4 separate regions of the Homo sapiens genome follow, and all the other regions are reported to be linked to region 1. Evidence: microRNA targets listed by miRTarBase, many of them from high-throughput screens and not tested one by one. Region 1 holds a microRNA gene; each other region holds the end of a gene's coding sequence.
Evidence for each region. The annotated mature microRNA hsa-miR-10b-3p reads ACAGAUUCGAUUCUAGGGGAAU and lies in region 1 at 1,449-1,470, opposite strand. An mRNA with a match to its seed (bases 2 to 7 or 8) in the 3' UTR can be bound and repressed. Matches are read on the target gene's strand: a 7mer-m8 pairs with bases 2 to 8, a 7mer-A1 pairs with bases 2 to 7 and ends in A, and an 8mer does both.

Region 2: miRTarBase lists ZBTB49 as a target of hsa-miR-10b-3p. Seed matches in the 3' UTR shown: 7mer-A1 at 2,612-2,618.
Region 3: the mRNA of TRAPPC6A is a reported target of hsa-miR-10b-3p. The part of its 3' UTR that is shown has no 7-base or 8-base seed match.
Region 4: the mRNA of PCSK1 is a reported target of hsa-miR-10b-3p. Seed matches in the 3' UTR shown: 7mer-A1 at 3,176-3,182.

What each region holds. Positions count from the first base shown.
Region 1 is chr2:176,143,848-176,151,837 of GRCh38, reverse strand. MIR10B (microRNA 10b) reads right to left here and starts at 1,535; the gene lies at 1,426-1,535. HOXD4 (homeobox D4) reads right to left here and starts at 288. Exons shown (of 2, transcript NM_014621.3): 1 at 1-288. The coding sequence starts at 204. RefSeq lists enhancers at 1-569, 3,098-3,641.
Region 2 is chr4:4,318,846-4,326,835 of GRCh38, forward strand. ZBTB49 (zinc finger and BTB domain containing 49) reads left to right here. Exons shown (of 8, transcript NM_145291.4): 8 at 1,795-2,938. The coding sequence ends at 2,471. Among named protein-coding and RNA genes, the nearest start is that of ZBTB49, 33 kb to the left of the region's middle.
Region 3 is chr19:45,158,267-45,166,256 of GRCh38, forward strand. TRAPPC6A (trafficking protein particle complex subunit 6A) reads right to left here. Exons shown (of 6, transcript NM_001270891.2): 2 at 6,861-6,928; 3 at 6,587-6,704; 4 at 5,898-5,981; 5 at 5,650-5,743; 6 at 4,667-4,957. The coding sequence ends at 4,926. It overlaps NKPD1 (NTPase KAP family P-loop domain containing 1), which reads right to left and starts at 2,716. Exons shown (of 5, transcript NM_198478.4): 1 at 2,659-2,716; 2 at 1,794-1,955; 3 at 397-834. The coding sequence starts at 1,884. RefSeq lists enhancers at 2,366-2,998, 5,654-5,833.
Region 4 is chr5:96,387,586-96,395,575 of GRCh38, reverse strand. It overlaps PCSK1 (proprotein convertase subtilisin/kexin type 1), which reads left to right. Exons shown (of 14, transcript NM_000439.5): 13 at 551-712; 14 at 2,198-5,243. The coding sequence ends at 2,575. The region is part of intron 4 of LOC101929710 (a long non-coding RNA gene); the gene reads right to left. It also overlaps a transcript of CAST not described here. Among named protein-coding and RNA genes, the nearest start is that of PCSK1, 42 kb to the left of the region's middle.

The DNA of each region.
Region 1 (7,990 bases):
CCCGGGGCCGCTGCCTCCGAAAGGCTGCTCACCGAAGTCGGGCCGTGGGTAGAGCCCCGGGGGCTGGAAGTCTGCGCCCTGCGCGCCGCCGCCGTAGTAGTCGGCGCCCTGCTCGCCTAGGTAGCCGCCCTGCAAATACTCCTCGCACGGAGGGAACTTGGGGTCCACATACTTGGAGTTCACCATATACGAACTCATGACCATTAATTTCAGAAGGTAGAAAATACTAATTTTTCTCGTGTTGTCTTTTTTTCTCCTTCCATAGGGCCCTCCTACTTGCTGTCAACTGAATAAAGTTGGGCAGCCATGTGACCAGGCCAGCCAATGGCGAGGGAGCAAGTTTATCACCGGGTTGGTGAGCATCTCATAATTTTCACAAATTTAACTAAATAACATACGTGTAATCAAGTAGCTTGCTATGGCACATTTGAGAGCCCCTGCCAGATATTAATGTAGTTCCAGTCCCCAGCACCCCATTCCCCTCAGGTAATCCCAGCTTTTGTCTGCCACTGATTTTGCCAACCTTCCGTGGCCCTTCCACTCACCCCCAGCTGAATGCAACCCCCGCCCCCCGACACCAAGTAGGCACAGCTCAAGGGAGAATGAATCCTCCTATTGGGGTACAGAGCAATGAAAGGTGGGTGGGTGAACTCGCCTCTGAGTTGGGCAGAGTGCCCCAGGCGAGGAGGGTTCCTGCCTGCCCGCCCTGCCTGCAGCCGGCGGGAGCAGGGATTCTGCCATACAAAGGCCGCCGTCCTGGCTTTGTCTTCATCAGGGTCACCCAAAAGTTACCAGAATCTGGCCAGCTTGAATCAAATTAGGCAATGAGTAACCGCCATGCTTTCTACCAGTGCCCAGGCCCGGGGGTTCCCAGCCAAAGCTGGGCCCTGCCAAAATAGCAGGGGGCCCTCGCTGCCCTTGCCCATGTAGCTGGGGGTGGGCTGGGATGGTGGCAAGGGCACCTCCACCTTGTCAAAATGCACCCTAGAGCTCCCCACTGGGCTTCTTTGAAGCTTGCTTTCTTCCCACAGGCCCCAAATACAAGCAAGCCCCCATTTGGGTACCTTTGCACCTCATGTTCCTGGAGGGCAGAGCTGGGACTGGGCAAGCTGGCCTTGTACCTCACTCCCTAGTACCCCAAAACCTAGCCCTTTGGCCCTGCATCCATGCAACCAATTAGGCTTGCATTCTCTCTTTCTCTCTCTCTCTCTCTTTCTCTCTTTCTGTCTTTCTTTCTTTTCAGCACCCAGAGGATACTCTGTTTAAAGGTGAGGAGCTTCTGGAGAGGAAAAGCTGCTCTATGTCACCAGGCGCAGCTGATCCTCCTGGAGTCCAAGGTAATAAAACAGAACGAGGCGGCTGACCAGCGCCGGCTGCTTCTAGTCTCCATGTCGCACTTTGGTCTCTGGCTATTCCGAAGAAACGTGAAGTTTTTGCATCGACCATATATTCCCCTAGAATCGAATCTGTGACTATACGGATACCACACAAATTCGGTTCTACAGGGTATATATAGACAACGTTACAACCTCTGGGTCCCACCCAGAGTGAGGTACCTAGGTCGCTGCCGGCCCCAATCTCTTCCTCTGAGCCACCACCGTTCGACGCAGCCACCCGCACTTTCTGAGACAGTTCAGGTAGCCTAATGGGCTTGGCGACAATTTGAAGCAATGAGTTCCCTCATTCTTCTGCCAGGGTCAGGGTTACCAAGCAGGCGAACAACCAGAATATTCTTCTTAAGAAAGAAAAAAAGAAAGAAAGAAAGAAAAATAATCCATCCCAAGGATGGCGGCTTTATTAACCACCCTCCCCCACCAGGATCCAAATAACCCTCCTCCTTACCAAGTGGTATTTTCCAGAAAGGAACAAATGCCCTCAGCGGCAGAAGAAAAAGAAGCGAGAGGGGAATATCCTGTGTCTACTCCTTTTCCTACTGCCCGACCAAGCCAGGTTGTCTGCCAAAGCTACTTCTCCAAGAAGTCGCGCATTTACCTTCATGGGCCCTGATCCGGGCTGGCCTCTCCGTTCCGCTGCTGCTGCAGACCCCGAGGCAGGCGCTGCTCACAGGCACCGAGCCGCCTTGGGCTGAGGCCGGCGCGCTAATGGTGAAGGGCAGGGCGAGGGGTCATTCGAAATCATTTACAAACATATCACAAACTTTCATTATTTTTGCTTTGCCGACAGCAGCACACAAGAGTACAAAAGTTCACAAATTTCACCCGCCCCAGCGCCTCGGCACTGTGCAGTGCTTGTCCCTCAGTTCAGGGCATGGAGAGCGCAGACTCACTCAGAGCCTCGATGGATTTCAGGGGCACAGGGATGCCCTGGCTCGAGTGGGGCTTTTGGGTGCCTAACTGTAGGCTGAAGGTGTTAGATTTTTTTTTAACTGTCTTGATTGCCCTTCCTACCTCCCACATAATTCAAAATTTAGTTTCAAGCCTGGGCCTGGGCCTGGTGGGGTGGGGCAGGGATACTCCCCCTCCAAGCCTGGCACTTTGCTCATCCCCCCATCCTTTGCTTCCACCACTTTACCTGTTTCGTAGGGATTTTGGGGGCGCCAGTTCTAACAAGGGCTATGAGGCTGCAGAATCTGTTTATCCCAGGAGAGTCCCCCCAATTTCCCTGAATGCCAAAGACTCCCAAGTATCCACCTTCCTGGGACACTGGGCCTAGGCTCTATCCAGACAAATTGGGGGAGCCTGCTGAGCCGGCTGGAGACCGGGGTGAATATACACATTTTCATATTTGTTAGACGCTGTGACCTGCATTTCACCTTATTGCTCGACTTGTTCAGACAGGTCAAAGCCAACGAGTTATTGATGAACAAAAGCGTTAAATATTCACCTCCCGCTCAACTGCCCATACTAATGCTTTTGATCTCTAGGGCTTTTTGTGCTGTGTTCAGCTACAGGGCGCTGAATGTGGGTTTGCTAGCGAGAAGCTTCTGCAGAGATAAGCACCCAGAGCCAGTGCAGGGGAGGAGAGAAGCAAGACCAGAGGTCCCCAGGACACCAGATTTTCCAGACTGGAGCCCAGAGCCCCTTTCACTTGAGCCAGCCTGGTGTATAGGGGTAGTTGCTCTTCTAGGGGTGTGCACAGTCTACAAAGGGTCGACTAGACTGCCCAGCCCAGCGGGGCCAAAAAACCTGTCTCTGAGGCCAGCCCCAGCTTTTCCAACCAAGAAGGAGGGAGACTGGTTCCTGCAGCCCTCACATATTCCAACTCCCATTAAAATAAAATCACTTCCGTTTTGCAGTGAGGGAGGGGCCACAGTTCTTTCTGTGACTCTCCCTCCAATACCATCGTCTTAATGAGATGGTCCTCCAGGAGGCTTCACAGGCCTAATCAGAAATGTACCTGTCTTTCGCGGCACAGGCAACTCAGAAAGATCCAAACATCCAAGCCAAGGATCCCACGAGTCTCTGGCCCCACCCCACCGCATCCACCCCACTCCACCCTCCTATGCCTCCTTGCAGCACCAGCGCCTCTGGGGCGGAAATTCTCCAACTGCAGTTACAGAGAAGCAGAGGTGAAAAGAAGGTCCGTATCCCTCCTCGCTCAGCCAGTGTCCCAAGCCCAGGGCCCACACCGCTGCAAACAGATCGGGGGAGGGGCGGGGAAGGAATGTCCACATAAAGCTCAGAAGCGGGCAACTCAACACACCCACGGCCACAGAGGATTGAGTTTTTGTTTTCAGTGAATTTTTTTAAAAACAGAAGGTTGGCCAGGCTAGACCAGGTTAAGAAGGGTTGGGCTGCGGAGGGGACCGCATTGCCTTGGTGTTTACTGCGTTGGTTTGAAGCCGCTAATAAGACAGGCTGCTAATTAGCAAGCTCTTAACAGAAGTGAGCGCCTTGGCGGAGCTGCACCTGTGCAGAGCAGGGAAGGGCCGCGAAGGTCTAGGGAGGCCCAAGGAGACAAGGGCGAGACCCCGCGGACCGTTCTCTCAGGCAGGTGTCTGTGAACCAGGCCCCAGAAAAGCTTTCCGGGACCTCGATTTAGCGCCTCCACCTCCCGAAGCGGGCTAACCTCGCAGAGCGAGGCCGGGGGTGGAGGGTGGGGGTGGGGTGGGGGAGGCAGGGCCTTTCTTCTATCCGCCCACTCCGCTGGCTTGGCCCCTTAGCCCACCACTTCCCCGCGATCAGTACCGTCTCTTCGCGATTCGGAAGAAGCGGGAAGGTACTTACAGCGGCGCTCTCTCATGGTCCTGAACCTGTTGCAATGAAAACGGGGATCACTTAAATTCCACAGGATAATAAAGCAGACACATATAACACACAGAAAAATGACAAGGCCCAGATACCCCACCAATACCCAGACCTCCCTGCTTCAGGTGCCCGCCCCCGGGAACTGCGCAAAGTTCTCCGCAGAGCCGGAGACCGCAGTCCCTCAAGAGCAGAGCCACGGATTATGACAGATTTCGATCTCCATCGCCTCCCCCACTCCACGCACCCTTGGGCAAAACCTCACTAGTTACTGGGCCCGAGTCAGGTCGCCTGTAACAGGGTTTTCCCAGTGGGAAAACGAGAAGCGAGGAGAAAATGGGCCTTTGTGTGTTTCCTTCTGCGCAATCGGGCCGGGTGGGTGCAGGTCCACTGGGGAGGGGGTAGCCGCTCCATCTGCCCCTCACCCCTGCTTCCTATCTCTCCCACCCTGGGAGCAATTCAGCCTCCCTTTCCAGCTTCAGCTTGGTTTCAAATTCCTCAGCCCCAACCAGTGCCCCCAAAACCTGTCTTCTCCTCTTCAAAGAAGAATCAGGCATGGCTGGGACTTGCCACTTCTACTCCAATTCAAAACAAAGAGCAATTTCCAGGGGGAAATGAGGACCCAAATGATAACCAAGGAGGAGGAAAATCAATGGGTTTAAAGGTGAATGGCAATGCTTTAGATTGTTATCCAGCTCTATGGGTATGACATCAATTTTTCAGGATTGCTGCTGGAGAGCCCAGAAGACAATCTTACTAAGCAGTGGTCCTCCCAGAGGCTGGTGTCCAGTTTTAAGTTTTCAGTCTTTCCTGATATTATTATAGGAAAGCAGTATCAGAAATCTCAGGGACAAAGCAGCTTCACCCTCATCCTCTCTTTCTTTCCCCACCCAGAATACCACTGTTTTATTCCACTTCTGAAGGAGATGCTCTTAAGGGGGAGGAGAGGGGCAGTAAGTCCCTCTTGTGAGGTGAGAGCCCTCAATTCCTAACTGTCCCTATCAGGAAGGGAGGGCATGGGAGATCGAGATGCTCATTCTATTTGTTAATTTAGGTTTAGGCTAAAATTAGAATTAACTTCGATGAGACTTATCCCCATCCTAGGCAGAAAAGTCAGGAACAGAGAAATCTCCCACCTCTGAAGTTGTTGTGGAAAAAGTAATAAGTGACTTACTGTTTTTCTTTCCTAGTGGGCAGGGGAGCTGGGAGTAGAACCGTCTCCTTCTTAGCCTGGAGCTGGCTGGAGCCTCTCACGTTCCTATTGCTGCTCCAGGAACCCAGCATCTGCACTTGTATGCTCTTAACCTAATTTATGGTGGGAATTATATTTTGGCTTGTCAACTCTCAAGCCATAAAACAAAGTTTATTGGAATCACGTGCTCGTAAATAGCCACTCAGGTCCCATCTCTGCAGAACCATAAATAACCTTTGGCTTTAAACTTTTATTCACTAAATAAAGGTTCGCTGCAACGGTTACCTCAGATTTAAATAGTTCCAAATATCCAGGATGCAAGGGAGGTCATATTCATATCAATACCCCAGGCTTTTCAAATAGCATCTTTTCGGAGAAGCTGTTTAAGTTGGGAGATAGTGCTATTTGGAAAAGGCTAGTTGGTGGGCATGTCTTATGATTCTTTGGCGGCATTCACTGTGAGTACCATCAACCCCTTTATTTCAATAATTTTCTAGCTCTAGATGTGATAAAGAGGAAGGTCAAAAGCCACTTCTTATTTGCTTATGACAGAAGTTGGAAGTTATTTGAGATTTTTTTCAAGTTTCAATGGAGAAAGGGTGGTTAGGGAGAGGCTGGGTGGGTTTGGGGGTGGGAGTAGCAGTTGGAATTAACACTTGGCTCCCTCCATATTGTTGTGCATGGGCTTGGACAAAGTTGAAGGTAGCCACATGCCTAGAGGTTTCTGTAATTCGCTTAGATCTGAAAGGAAAGCCTTTGCAAGTGACCAAACTGCTTAACACAGCAAGACTTGGGGTTTGGTAAAGTGAGAAAGTGGAGAATAGCCTCATTAGAATCTTTGGCAACTAAAGCTCCAAAGAAGGTTATAAAACAATAAAACAGCCCTGGTGTGAAGGCGACAGGGTGTGAGGAAGCAAATGAGACTCTCAAGGAATCCAAGCCTAGGAAGTCAGATGTCCCCACTCCCATGGTGTCTCCAAGCACAGTGATTAAGGCTCAGGAACTTTGGGGGCTCAAAACTGGGTGGGAGTTTTAGGAGCACTACCCCCACACCCACACTGCTGCCCCCACCAGGGAGAGAGCCTAAGAGAGGAAGAGAGAGTAGTACACTGCCGCTGTCCTGCTGAGAAAGCCAAGGAAAGAGCTTGGGCCTGAAGCTGCTCTCTAGGAAAATGTGGCATTCTCTGCTTGGGGGAGGCTGGGGTGGGGGTAAGAGAGAGGGAAAGATGCCCTCAGCTCCCACCAAGGAGCATAAATAAAAAGAGAATTGACCCCCCAGCACCCTTCAATAGCCCACCAGAGTTGCCACCAAACAGTGTAAAAACGTGTGGTTTTGACTATTCTGATGAAAATAATGGATGTTCTGTGGAGATTTGTAGAGCACACACACATATGATTTCTAAATCAAATTCAGTTGCAACTGTTCCCATCAGAAAGACCCATCAAGCCCATAAAAGAGATCCCTTCATACAAAGATCTCTTTGCATCCCAATTTCCACCCATTCTACATGCATTTTCAAACCCATTTCCTGATTTCACTGTCATTAGCTAGAAAGCAGGGGGCTATTAGCCTGGATTGTAAGGCATCCATTTCTCCTTTTTTTGTTTCATTAGCCATGTAGGAAGATATTTTTCTTTTATGGTTGATGGCATCTGTTTTTAAAAATGGATAAACTCTTCAAAACATGTTTCTGATTCTGGTTAGCACTAGATGAGCAGCTGTAAAATAATAATAATAGTTTGAGGGGTTGAGAAGAGCTTTCTTTATTTTCCTGTAACCCCGGCACTTTGGGAGGCCAAGACAGGCAGATCACAAGGTCAGGAGTTTGAGACCAGCCTGACCAACATGGTGAAACCCCATCTCTACTAAAAATACAAAAATTAGCCGGGTGTGGTGGCGGGTGCCTGTAATCCCAGCTACTCAGGAGGCTGAGGCAGGAGAATCGCTTGAACCCAGGAGGCAGATGTTGCAGTGAGCCGAGATCGCACCACTGCACTCCAGCTTGGGCGACAGAGCTAGGATCTGTCTCAAAAAAAAAAAAAAAAAAAAACCAAGAAAGAAAGAAATTAATCATAGTACATATTAGTTTCCAGGCAATTGTGATGAGCTTTTTATGAGAATGGGGTAACGAGAAGATAAGACTGAGGAGAAATAGTGTTTGAAACAGTGATGGGTACCCAGTTAGGGCTAGGTAGACATTCTTTGAACAAACGGTGATGAAGCATGGTGACTGAGACATGCTTGCAACCTTTATTGTGGCCTACACAAAAAGATAAAATTACATAGCCTACTCTGTATATTTAGACAATAACGGAAAAGTAGCTGTGAGTAAAGAAAAGGAGAGACGAAAGGAATATATTGAGGCAGACATCATTTATGTCCTGATCTTAGGAAAGCGAGGCAAAGTGATTAAAGAGAGAGTAAGGGTCCACCTTCTCATAATCTTCTTTTGTCTCCTCCTTCCCCTATTCCTTTTCTCCTCCCCTCCTCCTGGTCTTCTGTAGATGAAAGAAAGGGTGAAATGGGGGAGAGAAGCTGAGTGGTGGAAAGAGCAGAGCTAGCATGTGCCAGTTTGTTGGGGAGTTTCCCAAG
Region 2 (7,990 bases), not on the chromosome of region 1:
GTCACTGTGATGTGTTGTTGCAGTGTTTTGGTTTTTGTTTTTTTTAATCTTTTTTTTTTTTTTTTTTGAGATGGGTTCTTTGTTGCTCATGCTGCAGTGCAGTGGTGCGATCACAGCTCACTGCAGCCTCGACCTCCTGGACACAGGCAGTCCTCTCGCCTCAGTCTTCCAAATACTGGGACCACAGGCATGCACCACCACACCCAGCTAATTTTTATTTTATTTTTTGTAGAGACAGGGTCTCACTATGTTGCCTAGGCTGGTCTTGAACTCCTGAGCTCAAGCAATCCTCCCTCCTTAGACTCCCAAAGTGCTGGAACTACAGGTGTGAGCCACCTCACCTGGCCTACAGTATTTTTTATGTGGAAAATGTGCCCAAAGTTTAGGCATGTAAGCTCACATCCAGTTTGATTATTCAAAGGCTTTAAAAAAAAAATAGCCTAGCCATTGCTTGACTGGAGCTAGATAGCTGAGAATTCAGATGTAAAGTGAAAAGTTCTAAATATTTGTCCATGTGAGTTGTGCAGCTCATTCTTGGCTAGTCTGTGGCCTTTGTAAGGTTATGTGCTGAGTTCCTTCTCATCTTACCTATTCCAGTGGTGGAGCTAGATCCCTTACCTTTACCATATTCACAGAGAAAGAAAATAGAACCTGGACAGGAATGCATAACATTTTGTTAAAAGCTGAATACAGGGCCAGGCGCCATGGCTCATGCCTGTAACCCCAGCACTTTGGGAGGCTGAGATGAGCTGATCACTTAAGGCCAGGAGTTCAAGACTAGCTAGGCCAACATGGCAAAACCCCATCTCTACAAAAAATATAAAAATTAGCCTGGTGTGTTGGCACACCTTGTAAATCCCAGCTACTCGGGAGGCTGTGACATGAGAATCGCTTGAACCCAGGAGGTGGAGGTTGCTGTGATCCGAGATTGCACCTCACTCCAGCCTGGGCGCCTCACTCCCAGCACTTTGGGAGGCTGAGGTGGGCAGATCACTTGAGGTCAGGAGTTCAAGACCAGCCTGGCCAACATGGTGAAATGCCATTTCTACTAAAAATATTAATACAAAAATTAGCCTGGCGTGGTGTCAGGCATCTGTAATCCCAGCCACTCAGGAGGCTGAGGCAGGAGAACCACCTGAACCTCGGAGGCAGAGGTTGCACTGAGCCGAGACAATGCCACTTCACTCCAGCCTGGGCGATTTTTTTCTTTTTTTCGAGACAAACACCCGAATACACAAACACCTTTAGAAAAGATGTTTCTAAATTATAGATTGGCTGTGTTAGATTTATGAACATGTAGTGAAACTGATGAGGAGAGCTGTGGTTTCTCAGCATGGGCTTGGCAGGTGCCTACGGCACCCATGTGCAGGGAGACTCAGTGAGAATCGAAGGACTGACACTGAGATACTCAAAACCCAAAGGCTGTCTGCTGGAGGGGTCCGCAGCTGGAGAAGCACCTCCCACAGGAATGGAAAGCCTTCCAGAGTGAGCAGAAGCTGTGAGGTGACCCCCTCTCCTCAGATCAGGGTTGTTCAGTGTCTTGGGAGGGGAGGGGAGAATCCTTCCAGAATGGCCACTGTAAAAGCATCTTTTTCCAGCCTGGGCATCATAGCAAGACCCTGTCTCTACAAAATGTATATGTATATTAGCCAGGCGTGGTGTCATGCGCCTGTCGTCCCAGCTACTTGAGAGGCTGAGGAAGAAGGATTGTTTGAGGCTAGGAGTTCACGACCAGCCTGGGCCACATAGTGAGACCCTGTTTAAGTAAATAAATAACTGTTTTTCTTTTTCCAGGGAAATGTTTTGGGGGATCAGGTGACCTCCGCAGGCATGTCCGCACTCACACTGGGGAGAAGCCGTACACATGTGAGATCTGTAACAAGTGCTTTACCCGCTCTGCGGTGCTCCGGCGGCACAAGAAGATGCACTGCAAAGCTGGTGACGAGAGCCCAGATGTGCTGGAGGAGCTCAGCCAAGCCATCGAGACCTCCGACCTCGAGAAATCTCAGAGCTCAGACTCTTTCTCCCAAGACACGTCTGTGACGCTGATGCCAGTGTCGGTTAAACTCCCTGTCCACCCAGTGGAAAATTCTGTGGCAGAATTTGATAGCCACTCTGGCGGCTCCTATTGTAAGTTACGGTCCATGATCCAACCTCATGGAGTTAGTGACCAGGAGAAGCTGAGTTTGGATCCTGGTAAACTTGCCAAGCCCCAGATGCAGCAGACACAGCCTCAGGCCTATGCTTACTCGGATGTGGACACCCCAGCCGGTGGCGAACCACTGCAGGCCGATGGCATGGCCATGATCCGTTCCTCTCTGGCTGCTTTGGACAACCACGGCGGTGACCCCCTGGGCAGTCGAGCATCTTCCACCACTTATAGGAACTCAGAGGGTCAGTTTTTCTCCAGCATGACTCTCTGGGGGCTAGCGATGAAGACGCTGCAGAATGAAAACGAGTTAGACCAGTGATGTACCGCGCTTCTCCACGGTAGAGGCGTGTTCTCAGTTTAGCAGGCTGGTGTTAAGGCTGTAGGAGGACCCAGTTTCCCCATGACAGTGCCTTCTAACTAGCCAGAGAATAGGTAGCTTCCCTCCTGATGATGGCTCATAATCTGAAGCATCTTGAGCTGGGGGTGTGAGGGGGAGGGCCTGCTGGCTCACCGTGAGGCAGCCGCGGGAGGGAGCGCTGACGTCACAGAAGCGAAGGCTTGATGCTGTCTCAGCAGCCTCAGCTGTGGGGGGGAAGCGCGTGTGCATCGTGTCAACTACTGTACATGTTGGTCATGTGAAAGGAATTATATATGTATAGTATTACAAGTATTTTTGCATTTTTACAAGATTGAAATTTGTAGCATTTTGTATTATTTACACAGAATTTATTTGTATATGAAACTCATACCATAATTTAATTCGAATAAATGAAACTTTTCTATATATTATATGTTTCCTCTAGCATTTTTATTAATCTAAAGACTATAGGGGTATAAAAATAAATAGCAGCGAGGACTCACTCTGCAAGGATAAGAACCTCATTGGTCAGTCTCCCTCCTGGTACAGCGGGTTTCTCAGTGGTCAGAACTGCCTGACTCCTGGCTGCCACTTACTGGCAAGGTCATGGGTGAGCTGTTCACCCTCTCAGGATCTTCTCTGGAGTTTCTTTTTTGCAGTATGAGAGGAACATCTTCCAGTATTTTCACAAGGCTTGTCTGATCTGAGCACTCACTTGAAAATACCTGCCCGGCGCCTGGCCCTTGACAGGGCGTTCTAAATATTTACTTCCCCTTCCCAGCGGGCTTGACAGCCTCTGCAGGAAGGAGATGTGCCCGTGGCTCTGTCGCTGGAATATCAAGGTGAGACTGGGGATGTGGCACGTCACAGGTGATCTGCTTATAGCACTGCCTGCACGGAAGACTGGAGAGCACCCTACACGGAGGACTGTGTGGAGAGCACCCTCGAATACTCGTGAGCAGCTCTAACTCAGAAGTACAAGATACTCAACGAGAGACCAGTGAGGAGGAGAGGATTTTCATAGAAAAACAGCACAGTTGCAGAGTAGGGCATCAGCTCTGAAGTCCATTACAGGTGCATTTCGTGTTTTCCCATCCATCAGCTGCACTACGCTTCTGCCAGGCTGGCTCAGCGAGCATCTGTTGTCCCCATTGCACACATGGAGTGAACTTGGAACACAATGGCCGCACGTGAGTGCAGATCTTCCTCCTTCCTCCCCATGTCCTCTCCTCTCATGGCCTCCTCTGGCTCCTCCCTCATCCCAACTCGTGTAGCTCTTCAGCCTCCCAGCACCTACAGTGCATCCATCCCCTTAGCTGTCCCTGTGGACCCTCCTTGGCCATGGTTCACCCACCAACCCCTTTATCCATTCCACCTGGTGAACCTCCAGCACTACACACAGGGAGCCCAGCCAGGCTGGTGAGAAACAGCCATTCTCTAGTTTCTACAGCTCTCCTGAGCCCCCGCCGTATCCTACAATCCCCTCTCCTTGATCCAGGCGACGTGCTGCCCTAGGCACTTGTGTCACATCTTCTCAGACCTCTGCAGCTCGCCTGTCCTCCTCCTTATGGCCTTGCTTCCTATTTCTCTCAGAACCTAGAAGCAAATAGGGGCCAGGCGTGGTGGCTCACACCTGTAATCTCAACACGTTGGGAGGCTGAGGCAGGTGGGTCACTTGAGGTCAGGAGTTCGAGACCAGCCTGGCCAACATGGTGAAACCTCATCTCTACTAAAAATACAAAAATTAGGTATACTGCCACATGCCTGTAGTCCCAGCTACTCAGGAGGCTGAGGCACGAGAATCGCTTGAACCTGGGAAGCGGAGGTTGCAGTGAGATCGCACCTCTGCACTCCAGCCTGGGCAACCGAGCAAGGCTGTCTCAAAAAAAAAAAAAAAAAAAAAGGAAAAGAAAAAAGAAACAAATAGGAAAGAACATTCCTCAAGCTCCCATAACACCTCCCTACCTCCCCACATCTGTGCCCGTGGACTCTGCACTTTCCCATCTAAAACCAACCTGCCCCCAACCCCTTGATTTCCCACCTCTGCTTTTTCTCACTAAGTCTTATTATCACCATCTGACCTACTATATAATCTTCCCCTATTACGATGTAACCTCTTCTTTTTTTTTTTTTAAATAGATACAGAGTCTCACTATGTTGCCCAGGCTGGTCTCAAACTCCTGAGCTCAAGTAATCCTCCCGCTTAGGCCTCCCAAAGTGCTAGGATTACGGGCATGAGCCACCGAGCCTGGCCAGGATATAAACTCTTTGTGTCTCTTTTGTTCACTGCTTTATCCTCAGTGCCCAGAACAGTGCCTGACCCTAAATGCTCAGTAACAAATAGTCAAATGAATGTCTTTGGAATACTTTTTAGTCAAAATACTGGACCTCCTAGATTGATTGATTTTTTTCTCCTGAACCTTGTTCATCAGACTCCACTGAAATACTTTTTGCCCAGGTGGCCCACGACCTCCCCATTGCTAAACCGAGTGAGAATTCTCAGTCCCCTTCCTAATGACTCTGAGGCAGGATATGACACGTCGGCAGCAAGTGCATTCCTTTTTTCTCCTTGAAACAACAACCAAGAGGACCACTCCTGCTAGGATTCCCCTTCATGCACGGGTGGCTCTGTCTTGGACTCCTTCCCCTACCCCAACACACATCTTAAAGTTGGGGTGCCCCAACTTTAAGAACACAGGCCCTGGACCTCCTCTCCGGCCTTGGCTCTGTCCCTAGGCCATCTCCTCAATGACAGAGCAGGAGCACTGTCATCTTGGACAAACAACTCCAAAAGTTCCAGCTCCCTTTCTAACCTCATGCGTTTCAAGGAAATGCAGCCAGGAAGAGCAGACAATGAAACACAGATAAGACAGCTTGAGCACAGAGGGAGGAGGGAAAGTCTCTTCGTAACCACCAAACTTCACCCTCATACAATGGGCCCCAGTAAAACAGTGGGCCCTAATAAGCACATTTCTTTCCCTTTAGGCATGCTGAGATAGGGAAGCTAAAAGCAAACTCGGGTGGTATGCCTGCAGCTGCAGGAAGATGTGTGGGAACAGATGCAAAAACTCTCCCTCCCAGATAAGCAAGACAAAGAGACACAGAAACATTCCGAGCCTGTGATAAGCTCTCCCACCCTGAACCCTTAAATACTCTTATTTTGTAAGAGAGAGGGCCTCTGACCTAAGTCGGCCAGAAGCCCCTCTCAGGTTTATTTTCCAAAATAACCTATCTTTGACTGTTGAGTGGCTTTTCATGTTTCTTTCCTCTTTATTTAACTCTTACACTCACATCTCATGACCTTAAATACTGTCTGCCCATGACTCCTCCCAAAACTCTGGATTCCTGTCCTGAGCTGCCTACCAGCGTCTTCACAGACACCCCAGACTAAGAGCTTTCAAGACCAAGCTCCTTGTCTTCTCAATTCATGGCCACCTTATTAAATGGCAATCCTGTTCCTCCAGGATTTTACTCAGACTAAAAACCTTAAGAGTTATCTTACTTCATCAGTATAAGTATGGAGGTGCCTCCTGTATGCCAGGTGCTGGATTTGCCAAAGGCTCAGAAAACAAGACCCCTAGGCCAAGTCACATTTTTGAATAAATCTGCTTGATGAGGACAATAATTTGCTCTTGTAGAATAAAACTTTAGGGAATAGCATTAAAACCAAAGCTCTCAGCTGGGCTCAATGGCTCATGCCTGTAATTCCAGCACTTTGGGAGGCTGAGGTGGGTAGATGTCAAGAGTTCAAGACCAGCCTGGCCAACATGGTGAAACCCCATCTCTACTAAAAATACAAAAATCAGCTGGGTGTGGTGGCAGGTGCCTGTGATCCCAGCTACTCAGGAGGCTGAGACAGGAGAATCGCTTGAACCAGGAGGCGGAGGTTGCAGTGAGCTGAGATAGTGCCACTGCGCCCCAGCCTGGGCAACAGAATGAGGCTCTGTCTCCAAAAACAAACAAACCAAAACCCCAAAGCCCTTTTCATTCACATTTCCTGTCTCTTCCTTTTCTGTTCTTGTTACCCTGGCCCCAAAGCCTTATCCTAAAGAAAGAAAATCTCAGAAGAGGTGAAAAGGCTTGCATATGCATGAGTGCAAACTTGGACAGCAAATTATCTGACAGCGGACCAGACCTTGACCTTGTGCTGTAGACACAGCATGGGCCATCCACAGCAAGAATAACAGTGTGTGTGTGCGTGTGTGTTCCCGCATGTGTGCACACACCTTTTATCCCAGTCAGGACACCAGGACTGTGTTCTTGGCTCCATCGCTAGCTGACTGTGCGACAAATGCCCTCTTCTCACTGGTCTTCAGTGTCCTGACATGCAATGGCTACAGAATTTCCATTTTAGAGCTCTATGATTTTCTAAGAATGGCCCATGGCTAGGTTTCTGTAGAACCTTCCAGCGTCAAGACCTGGCTTCCATTACCAAGTTGGAAGCAGAGGCCAAGAGGCTGGGCAGATCATCAGAAAACCCCCAGCATCTCAAAATGTCTGAGTGGAAAGGGACCTTAGCAACTGTACCCTATTCCATGGGCTTCAACCTTTTGTGACTCAGCTGGAAGACTTGTTGACAATGCAGATGTTTGGAAATGATTCTATAGGTTGGGGCAAGGCCTAGGAATCTGCAGTTAACTGGTTTTCTAGATGATTCTGAGGCAGGGAGTGCAAGGACAGTACTTGAAGGCATGCTGATCTAGTGTGAATCCCGCATTGTACAGACACCCTGAAATGTGAAGTGACTTGCTGGATAATAACAGTAGCTAGGACATATTGTGTCTATCATGTGCCAGCACAATGGTAAACGCTCTGCAAGTCAACTCAAGCTTCATAAGAGCCCTGTAAGGTGTATCTCATAATTACCCCACGGACAGTTGGGGAAAGTGACTCCCTGAGAGGTCAAGGAACTTGCCCAATACCACCTAGCCAGGAGAGTTGGGTCCCAAAGTTCCAGGATGACCTGGTGGCAAGCCCCAAGCCAGGATCAGATGCAGCCTGGAATGGAGCGCAGGGTTCACCTGCCGGGTTGTGATGGATCTGGAGAGACACCTACTGCTATTGTATTCATGATACTCATCACCCATCCTGCTCCAGGAGCATCTTGCATTCTTCCCTATTATTTTAACTACTTTTTGAGACAGGGTCTCACTTTGTTGCCCAGGCTGGAGTGCAGTGGTGATCACGGCTCATGGCAACCTCAACCTCCCATGCTCATGTGATCTTCCCACCTCAGCCTCCCAAATAGTCTGGGACCACAGGGAAGTACCACCATGCCTGACTAAATTTTTTTTTTTACTTTTTGTAGAGATGGAGTCTCACTATGTTGCCCAGGCTGGTCTGGAACTCCTGGCCTCAAGTGATCCTCCCACCTCAATTTCCCGAGTATCTGGGACCACAGGCATGCACCACCATGGCCGGCTAATTTTTAAATTTTTTTTTGTAGAGACGGGGTCTCACTATGTTGCCCAGGCTGATCT
Region 3 (7,990 bases), not on the chromosome of region 1:
TGTCTTCCCCAACGCCAGAGCCAGCCAACAACCCAGGGCTCACCATCCCTGCCCCATGTACCCTGTACCCTGCTGAGCCAGAGGAGGGAGCTGAGAAGAGACCAGAGCAGAGCCAGGGTGTCGGCAGAGGGAAAGGGGGAAGGAGAGGGAGGCCTTCACTGCCTGGCGCAGGATGGAGGCACGGGGCAGGCCTGGCCTGGAAGCCTTGGACCCCAACAGGCAAAGCTGAGGCAGCCAGCCTGAGCCCCATGGCCAGGGACGCACCCCTCCTAGATAGGGAACAGGGTGTGGATGAAGAGGGCAGGTGCAAGATGCTAGGCAGGGAGCAAGGAGAGCAGGTGGGAAGTGAGGCGGCAGGAGTGGGGACAGGGCCCCCAAGAAGGCCAGGGTGAGCACCGGAGCTGTAGGCAGTGAAGGAGCCACAGGCCGCTGGGGCGGGCAGGGGCCGGGCATCAGTGGGCTCGCTGGGCTTCAGGAGGACGCCAGCCGCGGAGGGTAGAGCTGGGCCACTCCTGGCCATGGCTGGTGCCGTGGTGGGTAAGGTGGGCGCCTGAGGGGCGCTGGCAGGTTCCTTGGGGACAGTGGAGGTTGCAGGCAGCCCCTTCTGGGCTTCGTGAATGGGGCAGAGCCGCTGCCGCAGGGGGCTGGGAGGTGAGGGCTGGGACTGGGGCTGCCGCTGCTGCTGCAGGACGGAGGGCAGGAGGCCCCGGCGCCAGCCACTGCCACCCACTTGGTGGCTGTGGTAGGCCAGCTGCCAGTGTGATTGGGGGGAAGGCCGACAGGGCCCATGGGCTCGGAGGGCCGCTGAGTCCTGGCGCCACTGATGACAGCATCCTGGAAGGAAGGAAGTGGGGGTGACTGGGCCTGTGTCCCCGACCCCCGGGGGCACCGGCACAAGCCAGACCAAGTCTTCAGGTAGAACCTGGGGGCCAGAGTATTCTTGGGAGCCCCAGAAACCCCTCAAAAAGTAAGATTATGTGCGGGGGAGGTATGGGCAGGGGAGGGACCCAGGGTCTGTGCTGTCCCATGGCGGGGGAGCAGGGAAGGTGCAGGCTTGGACTTCAGCTGGGGGCAGAGAGAGGACGCCTGAGGTTGGGGCTTCAATGGAGGCTGGTGCCTGCCACAGCAGATTCCTGGATCCCTGGGGGGTGCCGCCAGTGCAGGGGTCAGGGAAACTGAGAAGATCCATTGGGAGCTGGCCCTGGCTGGCCCAGGGAGGCCGGAGTGATGGGTGGTGGCGTGGAGAGGGGTAGGCCAGGGATTTGGGTGGGGGGTGGACCTTGTCCCCAGCTCGGGCCAGGGTGGCAGGAAGGGTGGTGACCTGGGAAGCTCCAGCCCTCGCCCTAGCCCTGAGGAGGCTGAATCAGCCCCAGTGGGAGGGCACTGCCCCCTCCCCACCCTGAACAAGATCACCTGTGGTCACCACCAGAAACTGGGCCCAGCCTCATCCAGACATGTTCAGTGGGGGGGCTCCCTCTCCTACCCCTCACTCCCAGCACACTGCTCCCCTCCAGGCTGGAGGCCATCCACACAGGCCTCAGGGTTTGGAAACGGGGCAGGGCAGGCCAGGCGGCCCCTGCTTCCAACTCCAGCCCAGGCTCCTATCTTTGGGCCCGCAGGCCCTGTGGTCCGGGTCCTGGGTCCCAGGCCCTGCTGCTACACAGATGCCTCTGGGTGGAGTGCAAGTGGCTTTTCTCTCCTGGGGATGACAGCTCCCCTTCTGTTCCTCCATTCACTCTGGCTTCCTCACAGGCCTCTGTCGGCCATCACCCGCCCCCAAACTGAACCCGTACCTTTTCGGTGCCCCAACTCTGGGTCCCAGAAGTAGTGCCCGTTGGGGCTCTGGGCATCCTTGGCGAAGTGGACTTTGTAATGTTTGTGCATGGCAGCCGGGCAGCTGGGTGCTGGGGGCCTGCTCCTGAGGCAGGAGGGAGCACACAGGCTTGGCGTAGCCTCTGGGGCACGAACAGCAGAGAGCTGAGGTCAGGGTCCCTGCCCTGCCCGACAGCTTGGACAGGGGAAAGGCCAAGTCCCAGATGCTGGGTTCCTAGGTCACTTGGGAGAAGGGGGTAGAGGTGGCCTTCAGGGTACAGTGAGGGGCAGGATAAGGAGGGATGGCCAGAGGAGGGAACGGAGAACCGCTGGGGTTGGCTAGGGGTTAATTTGAGGCTGGGTGTTGGGAAGCTCCTGGGAGTTTCCAAGAGGCTAGGACACTGGGGAGTGCTGAGCAGACATGGGCTGGGGAAATAGGGGGTCCGGTGTGGTGGCTGAGTGACCAAGGGGTCATTAAGGTGTGGGCGCTGTGGGAGGCTGGCACGCTTTGGAAGGACATGGAGCTAGTGAGGTGAGCTGGAGAGCAGATGAGAAGCAGGGTGAGTGAAAATCAGAGCTGGGTACCTGTGGGCATTGAATGATACGGTGGAGGGGGAATTGTGAGGGAGCAATGAAATCGCGGTGGTCCAATTTGGGGAGAGGCTCAGCAAACTCGGGCAAGATGGGTGTACCGCGTTTCCAATGTGAAGAGCCGAAAGCAGGACAGGGAAGGATGCTGTGTGGGGGACAGGGATAGGGAAAGGCTGAGGGGCAGAGGAAACTGGGGTGCTGAGAGTTGGTAGCCTGCCCACCACTCCCCACCCCCAGTCCCAGTCCCACTCGTACCTGACGGTGGCCTCACGGCCCCAGCTGCCTGCCCCACGAGCAGCTGCCACACCAGCCCGGACTGTCAGCGCAGGCCCATCCAGATGGAGGCCTCAGCCCAGTGCCCGCCTGACCGGTTTGCCTGCCTGTCCCCGCCCCTTCCCCAGCGCCTGCCTGTCCCAGTGCTCTCTGCTCTCGAGGACTGGGACTCCGACTGGACTCAGTCTTGTGTCCCCATCCCTGGTAAGGAACGGAGATGCATCCCGCAGCACTGCCTCAATCTCCTTAAGGCAGCCACAGGCCCAGGCACTTCTGCTGGTGTGGGGGGGACAGGGAGCTGGGATGCCAGCTCCTCCGTGGCCCAGGTATGTGACCTTGGGCAGGTGACTTCACTCTCCGAGCCATGGCTTCCTCATTGCTGAGTGGGCACCTGCCTCTCGTGGCTGTCGCGAGGGAGGCACTGGGTGGGAGTCCCCTCAGCTCAGGGCCTGGCGCACCTGACCCGGGGCTGTGCTGACCCATTTACCTGGCGCTGTTCTAAATGGATGTCCATAGGACAAGGGCAACAGCACACACATCAAGGCTTGCTACACCATAGCCCCGTCTTCCTCTCCACCACCCAGGGGGCCAGGTGTGATGCCCGCTTCACAGATGAGGACACTGAGGCCCAGAGAAGTGAAGTCCTCGGCCCCAGGGCACACAGAGGCAGGGCGGGGATTTGGAAGCAGTCAGTGGTTGCTACTCCCAGGCTCGCCAAGGCTCTGTCTCCTGCCCTCGGGGCCAGCACTCAGTGACTGCCTCCCCACAGATGCCCTCTGAGGGGTGAGGGCCGGGGTAAGGCTGGGCAGGAGATGCCCTGAAGGCCCCTCGGCTCTCTGGGGCCCCGGCTCCCTGTGGCTGCTGGCGTAACGGGGTCAACAGTTGCTTCCCTGACAGACGGGGTGCTCCGATGGGGATGGGGGAGGCAGCCCCAGAACAGTGCCCAGGACAAGATAAAGGGAACCCACCCAGCCCTGAGTTCTGCCCAGGTGACCAAACACTGCTCCCTACGGCCAGAGCCAGGGCCCTTCCTGCGACCTGGGACCCCGTCTCCTCCCCCACCCTTCAAGCCGGTTGCTCTGGGAAGGTTCCTCCCTGGCCCACCAGGGAGGCGGGGCTGGCATCTGAGCGTGGGCATCTGCAGTGGGCCTCCGTGCCAACCCCCCACACCCCCGGCCCGATCATGAAGCGTGGCCCAATGTAAATGAGCCGTCTCCGCAGGACGAGATTGCCCCGGGCTGGGAGCACAGTGGCCAGGAGGCTGCTGGACACTAGGGGGAGCAGGCGTTTGGGGAGTGGGCCAGGCGGGCAGCACTGCAGAGGCAGACACAGGACACAGCTACACTCAGCCAGGTGGAATAGGAAGGGGTGACCCAGGCAGGGCCTGACGGGGTGACTGGACCCCACTCTACAGGGGAGGTTCTTTAGCAAGGGGCCCCTTTCTCATCCCATTTGGGGTTCACCCCCAGCCTTGGTGGGCAGCTCTGAGCCTGGGGCACTTACCCATGTCAGGCAGCGGGCGGCGAAGCCCAGGAGTCCCCAGATGCTACAGATGCGAGCGGGGTGGGAGGGGGCAGCATAAGGGCCACTCTGCCCAGGGACGGGCAGCAGGAGTGCGTAGGGGCCGCGTGTGTCCATGGGGGTGTCTGGCCTCCCCCTACCCCATGCATCCCCAGCCCTGGCAGCCCCAGCCCGACCTGGCCTACACTCCGGGCACTCCCAGCCCTGCTCCCCAGGAAGACGCTCCGTTCTGTGCACATCGCCGGGCAGAGGGCAGCCCCAGACTTGTTGACTTGGCAGAGGTGCCAGTAAGGCCGCCCATGCCGGAGGCCAGCATCCCTCTGCCAGGAGCACGGGGAGGGAGGGAGTGGAGGGGGACGTGGCAGGGGAGGGAAGGTCTGAGGGGCATGGGAGCCAGAGAGGGTACCCACTCCCCTGCAGGACCTGTGACAGTCGGTCCACAGATCCTCCCCCACTGCTCTGAGTCAGATTCCACACACACAGCCTTTATTGAGCAGCTACTGGGCAGTGACGCTGCCGAGGCGGGAATCCCACCACAGTCCTGACCGCAGCTGGGACCCCTTTGCCTCCTCTGACACCCCCACCTCAATTTGATACCCACTTCCTGAGCAAATGTGACCCCTAGGGCCTGGGATTCCCAAGACCACCCCGAAATGCAGCGGCCCCACCGTCTCCTGAGGCCGGTGAGGCCAGGGGCAGCAGTGCGGCTCAGCAGGTGCGAGGCAGGCTTAGGATTTCGGAATCACCACCTGGAACTTACCTGGAAGAGAAGGCCTGGCTTAGGCTTGAGGATGGGATGGGGGAGGCAGAGGGCACCTGGACGGCTCTTAGGCGCTCACCCCCGTCCTGCACTGACACCCCAGTGGCTAGGTTGGGCTGTTTCCTCCCGCCCACGGGGCCGCATCCCTGAGCTGTGTGAGTAACCAGGAGCATGAGGGCCACGGATGTGGCCCCAGGGAAGCGCCCGGCACGGGCTTCTGTGGTATGCATTGCTCGGTCCTACCCCACGGGGGCCCCGGGGGCCCCCATGAGTGGGCCTGGGGAACCGGCAGAGGCAAAATAACTGAAGGTGGGGGAGGTGGTGGGGCAGGCTGTCCCCAGGCAGGAATGGGGCTCCAGCTTGTCTGACAGAGGACACCCAGTCAGGCAGGCTGCAAGTTCCCTGGAGCCTGCCGTCGCCCCCATCGAAGGATCAGTGAGGATAACTTCTATTGCGTCCACCTCGGCTCCCATGCTGGGAAACGATGTTCAAAACCGCCAGACAGTTCTCTCTGCAGGGCTGGCGACGTCACGGAGCCAGGGGCACAGATGGGCCTGCACCAGCCGTGTGGCTGAGCAGGTGACTTAAAACTGGGCCTGCCTCCCAGGCACACACACAGGAGTGGGGCTGGAACTCTGAAGCCCCCAGCAACTCAAGGGATGAGAAGAATCCCCCCACCCCCCATGACTCACAGACGGGCAGGGCTGCCACGGAGGCGGTGACCACGCTCTCAATGCCCAGGGTATAGAGGGCGCCGCGCAGGAGGCCGCAGGTGAAGGCCAGGAACTGAGGAGGGAACACAGACCAGCATGGGAAGAGAGGGGAGGCCAGCACCCGAGGTCTGGGGCACCCCTTAGGCCTGGGGAAAGGCCTGATGTGGGATGGGGCTGGGTAAACAGGAGGAAGGGAGGTGTGGACAAGGCCCCAGCTCCCCCCATACCTTGGGTGCTTCCTCCAGATACTGCAGGCCAGAGGCCATCGGGAGGAGGAGGGGGAAGCTGTTGTCTTGCAGGACGTAGGTCCCCTGGGGGAGAGGAGAGGCTGGTGGGTGGGGTCGGGGCCTGTACATTTGAAGCGCAGGGAGGGTAAGCAGGAACCCAGGTCTTAGATTGGGCTGAGGTTGGGAAGGCCCCCTTCCTGAGAACCACTGGAGTCACAGCCTTGGCCTCCAGTGCTCTGGTAGGGCCCAGGGCTTCCAAACTTGGAGTGGGTGCCTGTGCCCTGGGGAGTGTGGGTCCTGCCCTCGCCTCCCAGGGTTGTGCAGAAAAGCTGGGGACCCGGCCCAGGAAGATGCAGAAGGGCAGGTACAGCCTGGGTGTCACTGGGGGACTAGACCAGCTTGGGACAAGCAGCATCACACTGGGGGTAGGGCAGGCAGCCACCAGGGGCTTTCTGCCCATGCATGGCTCACTCCTGGTAGGCTGGAGAAGTTCCGGAAACACCCCCTATGCCCCAGCGCAGCCTCCTGGCTTCCCTTAGAGGATCAGACAGAGCAAGAGCTGCGGCCGCCTGTGGGAAAGCTCTGGGCGGGTCCCGGCAGCCGCTGCTCTGGCGCCGGGGGATTCCCCTCCCACTCTCTTGGTCTTGCCCTCAGGAGGAAGCTGGACGGGCAGGCCGGGGTGCTCCCACCTGGTGATTGGTGCGCAGGCTGTCCATCTGCTTCTGGAACACCGCCACCCACAGGTCTTTGCACAAGAACTTGAGGACATCCAGCTCCTCCCTGAAGGCCAGCGTCTCCCGGGGCAGCCTGGTGGGGCAGTACCAAGCTGAGGCCGTGGGGCCAGGCCAGGAAGAGGGAGGAAGACAGGCCCGACTCCTGCATGGAGCAATGCAACCCTCCCCGCCCGGGGCCTGCCCAGCCCTGCCAGCCAGGCTGGGGGAGAGCAGGAGGGGCCGCGCTCACCTCTCGCCTAGAGCCTGGCCCACACGGAACCCCATACCCTCCAGGACCGACAGGCTCATCTTCTGTCCCTAGAAGGCCAGGGGAGAGATGCTCAGGGGCCCTTAGCCACCACGAACCCGGGGCCACCCAGGGGGGGACCTGCCAGGGGACCCAAAGACCAACTTGCTGGTGCTCGTCAGTTCAGGGGTGAGCAGGGAGGGGCTCTGGCACAGCCCGGCCAGGGCAGGGGCAGGCCTCTAGGGTGCTGGGGCTCCCTCACCCACCTCTGCAGACCTTGCAGGCTCTCTGGATCCCCAGATCATCAGCCCCCAAGAACCAGCTCCCCCTTCCCTCAGGAACAATGGGGGTCTTCCCCAGGCTCCCTTCCTCCTCCATGACTTTTCCTGATAACCCCCATGACAGGCTGCACGTGCTTTCAGCGCGAACCCTCACAATGCCCTGGGAAGTGGGCGCTGCGACTCCACCAAGATGCTCCAGGTGACCTGCCCAAGGGCTGGAGGCTGGGCCACAGGAAAGGGGGCTGTGGAAGTCAACCATGATCATCATGCCTTATAATATTGGCCAAGATCCCTGGGGAACACGTGGAAGCTCGGGACAGGCAGATCTTCGTTTGGGTGCTCGAAAAGGACAGTGGCTGCCATGTAGTGTCTGGAGGGTAGGCCAGGGTCCATACAGGAGGGGACTGTGCTGGCAGAGGCAGGCCCCAGGTAGGAGGGCTGCACTCGGTGTCTGTCCACGTGCCTGTGTGTGTGGAGGGCATGGCTGGAGGAGAGGAGATGCTCATGGATTTTTTTTTTTTTAAGAGATGGAGTCTAGCTTCATTGCCCAGGCTGGAATGCAGTGGCCCAATCTCTGACTCACTGCAACCTCCGCCTCCCGGGTTCTAGCAATTCTCCTGCCTCAGCCTCCAGAGTAGCTGGGACTACAGGGATACGCCACCACACCCTACTAATTTTTTGTATTTCATTAGAGACAGGGTTTCACTGTGTTGCCCAGGCTGGTCTCGAACTCCTCAGCTCAGGCAATCTGCCCGCCTCGGCCTTCCAAAGTGCTGGGATTACAGGCGTGAGCCACCGCGCCTGGCGAGTTTTCTTTTTTGGAGACAGAGTCTCACTCTGTTGCCTAGGTAG
Region 4 (7,990 bases), not on the chromosome of region 1:
TATGAGTGAGAACATTCAGTGTTTGGTTTTCTGTTCCTGTGTTGGTTTGCTGAGAATGATGGTTTCCAGCTTTATCCATGTCCCTGCAGAGGACATGAACTCACTCTTTTTTATGGCTGCATAGTATTCCACAGTGCATATGTGCCACACAATTTTTAAGGGCTTATTAATGCTAGAGGTTGTTTATAATACTCCATAGAGGCTGACTTTTTTCCCAGTGGAATGTTTCTATAAGTTGATAATTGGGAAATATATTTATAGAAGGTACAGTCAGCTTTCCAAGAACACATCCAATATGGAAAAGAAGACTTACATAGAGATTTCTGATTTTTAAATTAAATGTTTGATTATGAAGCAATCAGTTTCTAAACTGTTGAACCTACAAATTGTCAATTTTTATAGCAAGAGTGGATCCAATGGTTTCTTTCACATGAAATGCACAGAATCTTAAAATGAGATTTTAACAATGAAATCCTTTTTAGCTATTTTGAATGAGTTTGTTTTATATTATCTAAAACACATACTAAATGTAGGTATGCTTATTTGTTAGTCTGGAAGAATTCAAAATGAAGGAAGAATTGTGAACTGGAAGCTGATTTTGCACGGGACCTCTTCTCAGCCAGAGCATATGAAGCAGCCTCGTGTGTACACGTCCTACAACACTGTTCAGAATGACAGAAGAGGGGTGGAGAAGATGGTGGATCCAGGGGAGGTCTGTGTGGCTCTGTTCTTGGCATGCTCTCTTTTGAACTGGGGTAGACAATGTAGTCAGTGAAGCTGTACCCAACTTCCAAGCAGGAAATAAGTCAAACATGGATGGGGAGGATAAGAAGTGATAGTGGTAAACTATTCTTTTCCATAGGATAAAACTGTATTTTTTTCATTCAATATTTTATCCAGAACTTAGAAATCACAATTAATGAATTCAAAAGTATTAAATTTCCTAACATGAATTTTCTCCACTTATGACAGATAACAAATGGAAAAAAAAGTTATCTTTATGCCCAATCACATATATCTAACATTTGTACTGTACTTTGTTTTTAAGCATTTTCCACATTGTCTCATTAACCTATAATCCCTATAACCTAGGAAGGATAGACATTCGTGTATCCATTTTGCAGAAAGAAAAACAAGGCTCAAATGGCCAAATCATGTAGGCTTCTTTTTATTAATTCATTAACTGACACTTCTTGGCAACACCAAGGGGAGCGATAGATCACACTTTTTCTCAAAAAATTTCAGAGGATAGCTAAAATAAGTCGTTCACATTCCTGGGTTTCAGCCTGCTATGGCTCCTGGCTTCCTTCTATCAGATGGTGAGAAAAGCCCACATTTTCTTTATCTCTGTATCCCAGCATCTAGCACAGTGCCTCAGGTGTAATAGGTAGGTTTTCAGAATTTTCAGAACGCCCTGCTCTGAATAGGTCCAGCTCTGAGCTGGGTGTTTTGGAAGATACAGAGGCAAAGTACATATTCAAGAAACTTACACATGAACTGTGAAGGCCTCAGCTTGAATTCTAGTTCCATTTATATTCTTCAAAGCAGCTTCCCTCCAGGACCTGAGTCCTGAGTACTTTTCTTCACAGTCTGGGAAGCAGGTTAACCTTGTCAGTGTTGGAATATTGAAACACTTCCACAGCAGTTGGCCAAGGTTGGCTTCTCTGAGCTCTCCAGCTCCCTCCTCCCCAGCCTAGCACCTCAGTCTCTCCCCTGACCACTTCTTACAGCTCAGTGGCTAAAAGGGTAGTTCTGAAAGCCAGTGCCTCCAGGAAGGCACACCCATGCTACCGCAACCAGTGGGTGCCTTCTATATGACTTGTTAGATATTTTGATATCCTCTGCTTCCCAAAATGGATTCCATGACAGCAGGCTGACAAGTAAAGAAAACCACCATGTACTGAGTACTTACCTATACAGTCTCATCTAGTCTTCAAAACCACCACAAATGGAGGTACTCTTATTCCACCTGACAGGTGAAGTTGAGGGAGATTAAAAAGGTTGTTAAAGGTACCCCAGAGGGTAGGCAAATGAGGGTTGAAGCCCAAGTCCATGTGGCTCCCAGTCTTGAACTCTCTCCCCTCCCCTCATTGCCTCTCAAGCGGCAGGCAGCGTTCCTGTGGTAGGGTTGCAACTAGCTTGCCTGGCCATAAATAATGAACCTTCTTCCCTTTGTGGATGGCATTCTATGTTTTAGGAGCAGCCCACACAAGAGAACCCTAAGGAGAACACCCTGGTGTCCAAAAGCCCCAGCAGCAGCAGCGTAGGGGGCCGGAGGGATGAGTTGGAGGAGGGAGCCCCTTCCCAGGCCATGCTGCGACTCCTGCAAAGTGCTTTCAGTAAAAACTCACCGCCAAAGCAATCACCAAAGAAGTCCCCAAGTGCAAAGCTCAACATCCCTTATGAAAACTTCTACGAAGCCCTGGAAAAGCTGAACAAACCTTCCCAGCTTAAAGACTCTGAAGACAGTCTGTATAATGACTATGTTGATGTTTTTTATAACACTAAACCTTACAAGCACAGAGACGACCGGCTGCTTCAAGCTCTGGTGGACATTCTGAATGAGGAAAATTAAAATAAGTGTGTGGTCCCAAGTTGGAAATATTCATGCTTCTTCCTTACCCTGCGATTTTGCCTGTGTCTGAAGTGGTTGTTTTGTCATGAATTCTTATGCTTATAATATCCTTTGTGGCACCTTTTCTTTTTCTCCCTAAACTGTACATGTGAAGGGGATGAGCTCAAGCAGGAAGTTCAACTTCCAGAATTGATCATAGGTATTTCAAAACACATCTTTCCTGTCTGCACAAGTGAAGTGTTTTGTTCTTTCTGGAGTCACAGTTGACAAAAAGCTCTTACACTACATTAGAACACTGCATTAGAGCCCATTTCAATTCTCAAAAGAAAAGGCAAAACCTGGGATATCAATTAATTTGAAAACATAATCTGCAAAGAATGAGAAGGAGTCAGAAACTGTTTCTGTAGCTTGTTCCCTGTCTTGTCCATGTGGTTCTTCAAATTTTGATGCCAAGAAAGTATTTGGTAGGCCTAATGAAGGAGTTCACTGTAAGACTCATTCCCTAGATCTTTCTATTCCAAAGTGCCACTCATTCCTGTAGTCAAAATCTGGTCATGTTGGTCAAAAGCTGGATTATTTAGATCTAGAAACAGATCTTGAAATCTGAATGCTCTGGTTTGAGCAATTTTCGAACATTCTTTGCCTGGTGCACTGTGTCTGTGGTGCCAGAGGCGTCCGTGGATCCAGAGGTGGTTATGACTCGTGCTGCATGCCTGGTCTTTCCTCTGTTTCTCCTTCTGAAAGTTTTCTATACCTGTCTCCTTTCTCAGCCACAAAATAAATGTTGGGAGAAATGATATATACCACTTTCCCAGAAAAAAAAAAACTTACACTTGGGACTTGGCAAATTCCTAGTCACAATTTTTTTCAGCAGTAACAGGAAACCACTTATCACATGGAGACCTAATGTAATAATAGAAAAATACTCATAATAGGGAGAAACCAAGAGAAGTTTTGTTTTTGTTTTTTTCCAACTGTGTTCATTAGAACAGCGTGTTCTAAGTATTTGAAACTGAATGTTTATTCCTTGATACTAAAAGTTCTTCTCCAATCCTATCACTGATAGTGTCCAAATTCTCACCAAATTGCTCCTAAGCTTCAAATCAGAAGCAGAAACTGGCAGGCCATGGACCTTAATTGTCCCTCAGGTAGATTTTGTTTGGTATGCAGAATGTTTTTAAAATATGAGTGGTTATTGAAAATATGATGTTTCACATAAAACCTCATTCTCGGACCCATCTTTGCTCATGGCAACAGTTAGCTGGAGCTGAGTAGCAGCTGCCTGATTAGATGACTCTCAGTCCCCATGGCACCCTGCTCCATGTTACCTAGAGCAGGCACTTGATTCCTTGCTGGGCAGTATCCAATAGGCATTTGATTTTGCCCACTCCTACACTAAGCGAATGTGTACAAAGTGTAAATGCATTAGGAAAAACAAACTACCCGCATCTTCTGTTAGGCAGGATCTGTACAATAATAATTATGAGTTTGCTTATGTAATCTCACCTCACCTGGATGATCACTAATACTAATTCATTTATTACTAACCTTCTGGCTTCCTTCTCTCAATATGCTTACAAAGTCTCCAGTCACCTACAATGCTGGCTTTCTCCCACTGAGTTTGCTGTTTGCAATTTTTCCATGAAGTTTGAACTTCATAAGGTAATTCATGGCATTGAACTGGTTCATGAAAAGAACACTAGAGTCTGTCATTTGCTTTGGCTTGAAGTATGGTTGGTAACACAAATTTTCACCTGCTCTTCTACCATTTGAATTTGTGTAGAGGGTGTTTGCAGAGCAATGCCCGTAATGCTTAGAGAATGTTCTCCTAAAAGACTTGCGGAATCACTCTGTCCTTGGAAGTTTCATATATTGTTTGATATGAAGTGTTAGATAGAATTTCCAATATTGGAGCATATCAAAAAGTATTAAAACTAAAAAGGACCAGAGAATTCTTAGATTGGCCCGGAAAGGCCAATAAAGAGTTAGAATGAAAACTCATTACTTTTCCATTCCCAATCTAGTGCTAGATGTATAAATCTTTCTTTTGATTCTTCCTAACAAAATATTTTCTGGGTTAAAACCCCAGCCAACTCATTGGGTTGTAGCCAAAGGTTCACTCTCAAGAAGCTTTAATATTTAAATAAAATCATATTGAATGTTTCCAACCTGGAGTATAATATTCAGATATAAAACAGTTTTGTCAGTCTTTCTTAGTGCCTGTGTGGATTTTTGTGAAAATGTCAAAGAGAAAACTTATATACTATTTCCCTTGAAATTTTAAACTATATTTTCTTTACAGGTATTTATAATATACCAATGCTTTTATCAAACAGAATTTTAAAGAGCATAATAAATTATATTAAAGAACCAAAAGTTTTCCTGAGAATAAGAAAGTTTCACCCAATAAAATATTTTTGAAAGGCATGTTCCTCTGTCAATGAAAAAAAGTACATGTATGTGTTGTGATATTAAAAGTGACATTTGTCTAATAGCCTAATACAACATGTAGCTGAGTTTAACATGTGTGGTCTTGGTATTCTTAAGGGAACTTCCACATTATACATTTGATGTATTGACCAGAATATGTAAAATATGCTTATAAATCAGAAAAATAAATTGTTTCTCACTAAGTCAAAAGAAAAAAAGCTCATGTTTCCACCACAAACAAGATCTCCCTCTTTTATTGTGTTTCCCAAATGGACTATACAAAAGAAAAGCTGACAGTTTACATTAAGGAGTTAATTCCTTTTTAGGAAATTGGGCTTTCTTGGAGTCAATTTAAGAATCTACCTGAACAAGGTATGTTTTATTTTCCTCTCTAGCCCATCCTTCACTTTCTTGACAACATGCAAAGCTGTATGACTGAGCCTTAACTGAAATGTTGAGAAATGAACAAACTATCTAAACTAAACTAAACAGACTTACTACATGTAAGAGAAATGATTCCCAACATTTCACCAAATAGGACTTAGTTTACAGGCTAGAGTAAAGCAGCTAAGTGTGAAATCCTTCCCAGAGGTTCTCTCATTAGAACCCTCAAAGTTCCAACTTTTTTTTTTTCTTTTGCTAGAGTCTCACTCTTTTGCCCGGACTACAGTGCAATGGCATGATCATGGCTCACTGCAGCCTCCACATCCCAGGCTCAAACGATCTTCCCACCTCAGCCTCCCTTGTAGCTGGGACTACAGGTGTGCACCGCCACACCCAGCTAATTTTTGTGTTTTTTGTAGGGACAGGTTTCGTCATGTTGCCCAGGCTGGTCTCAAACTTTTGGGCTCAGGTGATCCACCTGCCCCAGCCTCCCAAAGTGCTGGGATTACAGGCATCAGCTACTGTGCCAGGCCCCAATTCCCAACTTTGATTTCTGAACTTCAGGCCCACTTCTCTCTCTTGCTTCAAACTTCCATTCCTGGAATTTCGACCCACCATCTCAGAATCTGACCTTTCTCCCCTTGGGAACTGGTTTTTCCCCAGAATCCATTCATTTCTCCTAAGTCATAATCATTCAGTAAAACTAGAATGATCTTTCAGAAATTCCAGAAGGACTTCTTTCCATCAGGATTAGTTGAAGATATATCTCTATTTTCATTTCATTGATTAATCGATTAATTGATTGATTGTACATATTTAAGGTGTACAATGTGATATTGTGATATATAAATACATAGTGAAAAGATGATTACAGTCAAGCAAATTAACATATCCATTCTCTCAGTTACCTTTTTTCTTTTGTGGTAAAAGCACCTAAATGCTAAGAAAACTCTTTAAGCAAATTTCCAGTATGTAATACATTTTTATTAACTATAGTCCTCATGCTGTACATCACATCTCTAGACTTTTATCCTACATAACTACAACATTATACTATTTGACCTATATCTCCCCATTTCCCCCCACCTCTCCCACCCCACTGCAAAAACCATTCTACTCTACATTTCCATCTATTTGACTTTTTAAAAATTCCACATATAAGTGACATTATGCAGCATTTTTCTTTCTGTGTCTGGCTTATTTCTCTTAGCATAATATACTCTAGGTTCATTCATTTATTGCAAGTGGCAAGAGCTCCTTTTAAAGGCTGAATTTCATATGTGTGTGTGTATATATATGTATATATATATACAGAAATAGTTTGTGTGTGTTTGTGTTGTACATAAAACAATTTCCATAGATGGTCTCTACTTTCTTTTGAATGTCCATCTGGTAACTATTGGATTAACCATGTACATGCTGTGAGTACAAACACAAATACATGCACGTGTACAAAGGATACAGATTAATTCTTAAATACAAGTTTAAACTCATGAGGAGGAAGAGAAATGCCTTCCAACTGCCTTGTAATTTGCAAAGCTATAACATTCATATAAATGATTGTTTGAATTATCCACTCTGTTCCCTCTGCCCCTGTGGACAGAGTATACTTTCTTGGACCACTGATGTTGACCATGCAATCTACTTTGGCCAATGGAATATTAATGAATGTGATGCAAGCAGAGGCCTCAAATGTGCTTGCACAGTTTGGCTTGGCCCTTGCTTTTCAGTGACCCAGCGCTGTGAGGAGAGTGTGCCCCAGGAGCTACTGCCCCTTAAGCCTGGTTTCCAGAACAGATGTATATGAACCAGATGTAAATCAAAACCACATTCTGGAACCAAGCCCAGCCAACTCATAGCACGAAGCAGAGCCATCCTGAGAGAGAACAGTCTAACTAAGCCTGTATGTTGTTGCTATATGTACATATTTTATAAGCATTACTCTATCATTAATGTACCAGTAAAAGGAGGTGACTGAAGTCATTATGCGCCCATCATTCTCATGGCATGTGCCAGGGAGGCAGAGACCACTTTCCTGGTTTCTATACCGGTTCTCTCTACCATGTGTGCCACTTTCAGTCAATTTGGCTGGAATGCCATAAAGCACTTTCTCTCTCCTCCACATCCATATGCACCCCATCTCTATACACCCCCATATTGAGAGTATCTTCATTAAATATGTATCTGAACAGGGACCCCCAATCTTGAAAGGAATTCTTGTTCTTAGAAGAGGATAGAGGAAAACATCCTCGAATTTCTTCCTGCAGGGTTGTCATGATTGATCCCTTCATTTCCTGTATCCCTGTCCCTAGTGGCCCCAGTGACAGGTGATTTATAAACCTCGATGATGTCTCAGTGAGAGGAGAGTACCCTTTGGCCTTAGTTCTGTCTTACATATTTTACAACACTTCTTGCATCATCACTTCTCCTATTCCAGGCACCACCAGGGCTCAGCTCAAAACTCATTCTTGGGGAGGGTCCAGTGCTCCCCACATATCATGCATAATTTCCAGTTCATAGTCACATTCATAGAAAAGAGTATCATTTGAGTGTTCCATGGTAGGGTGCCTAATGCCAGTCTGTTTTGGATAAGAAAATGCT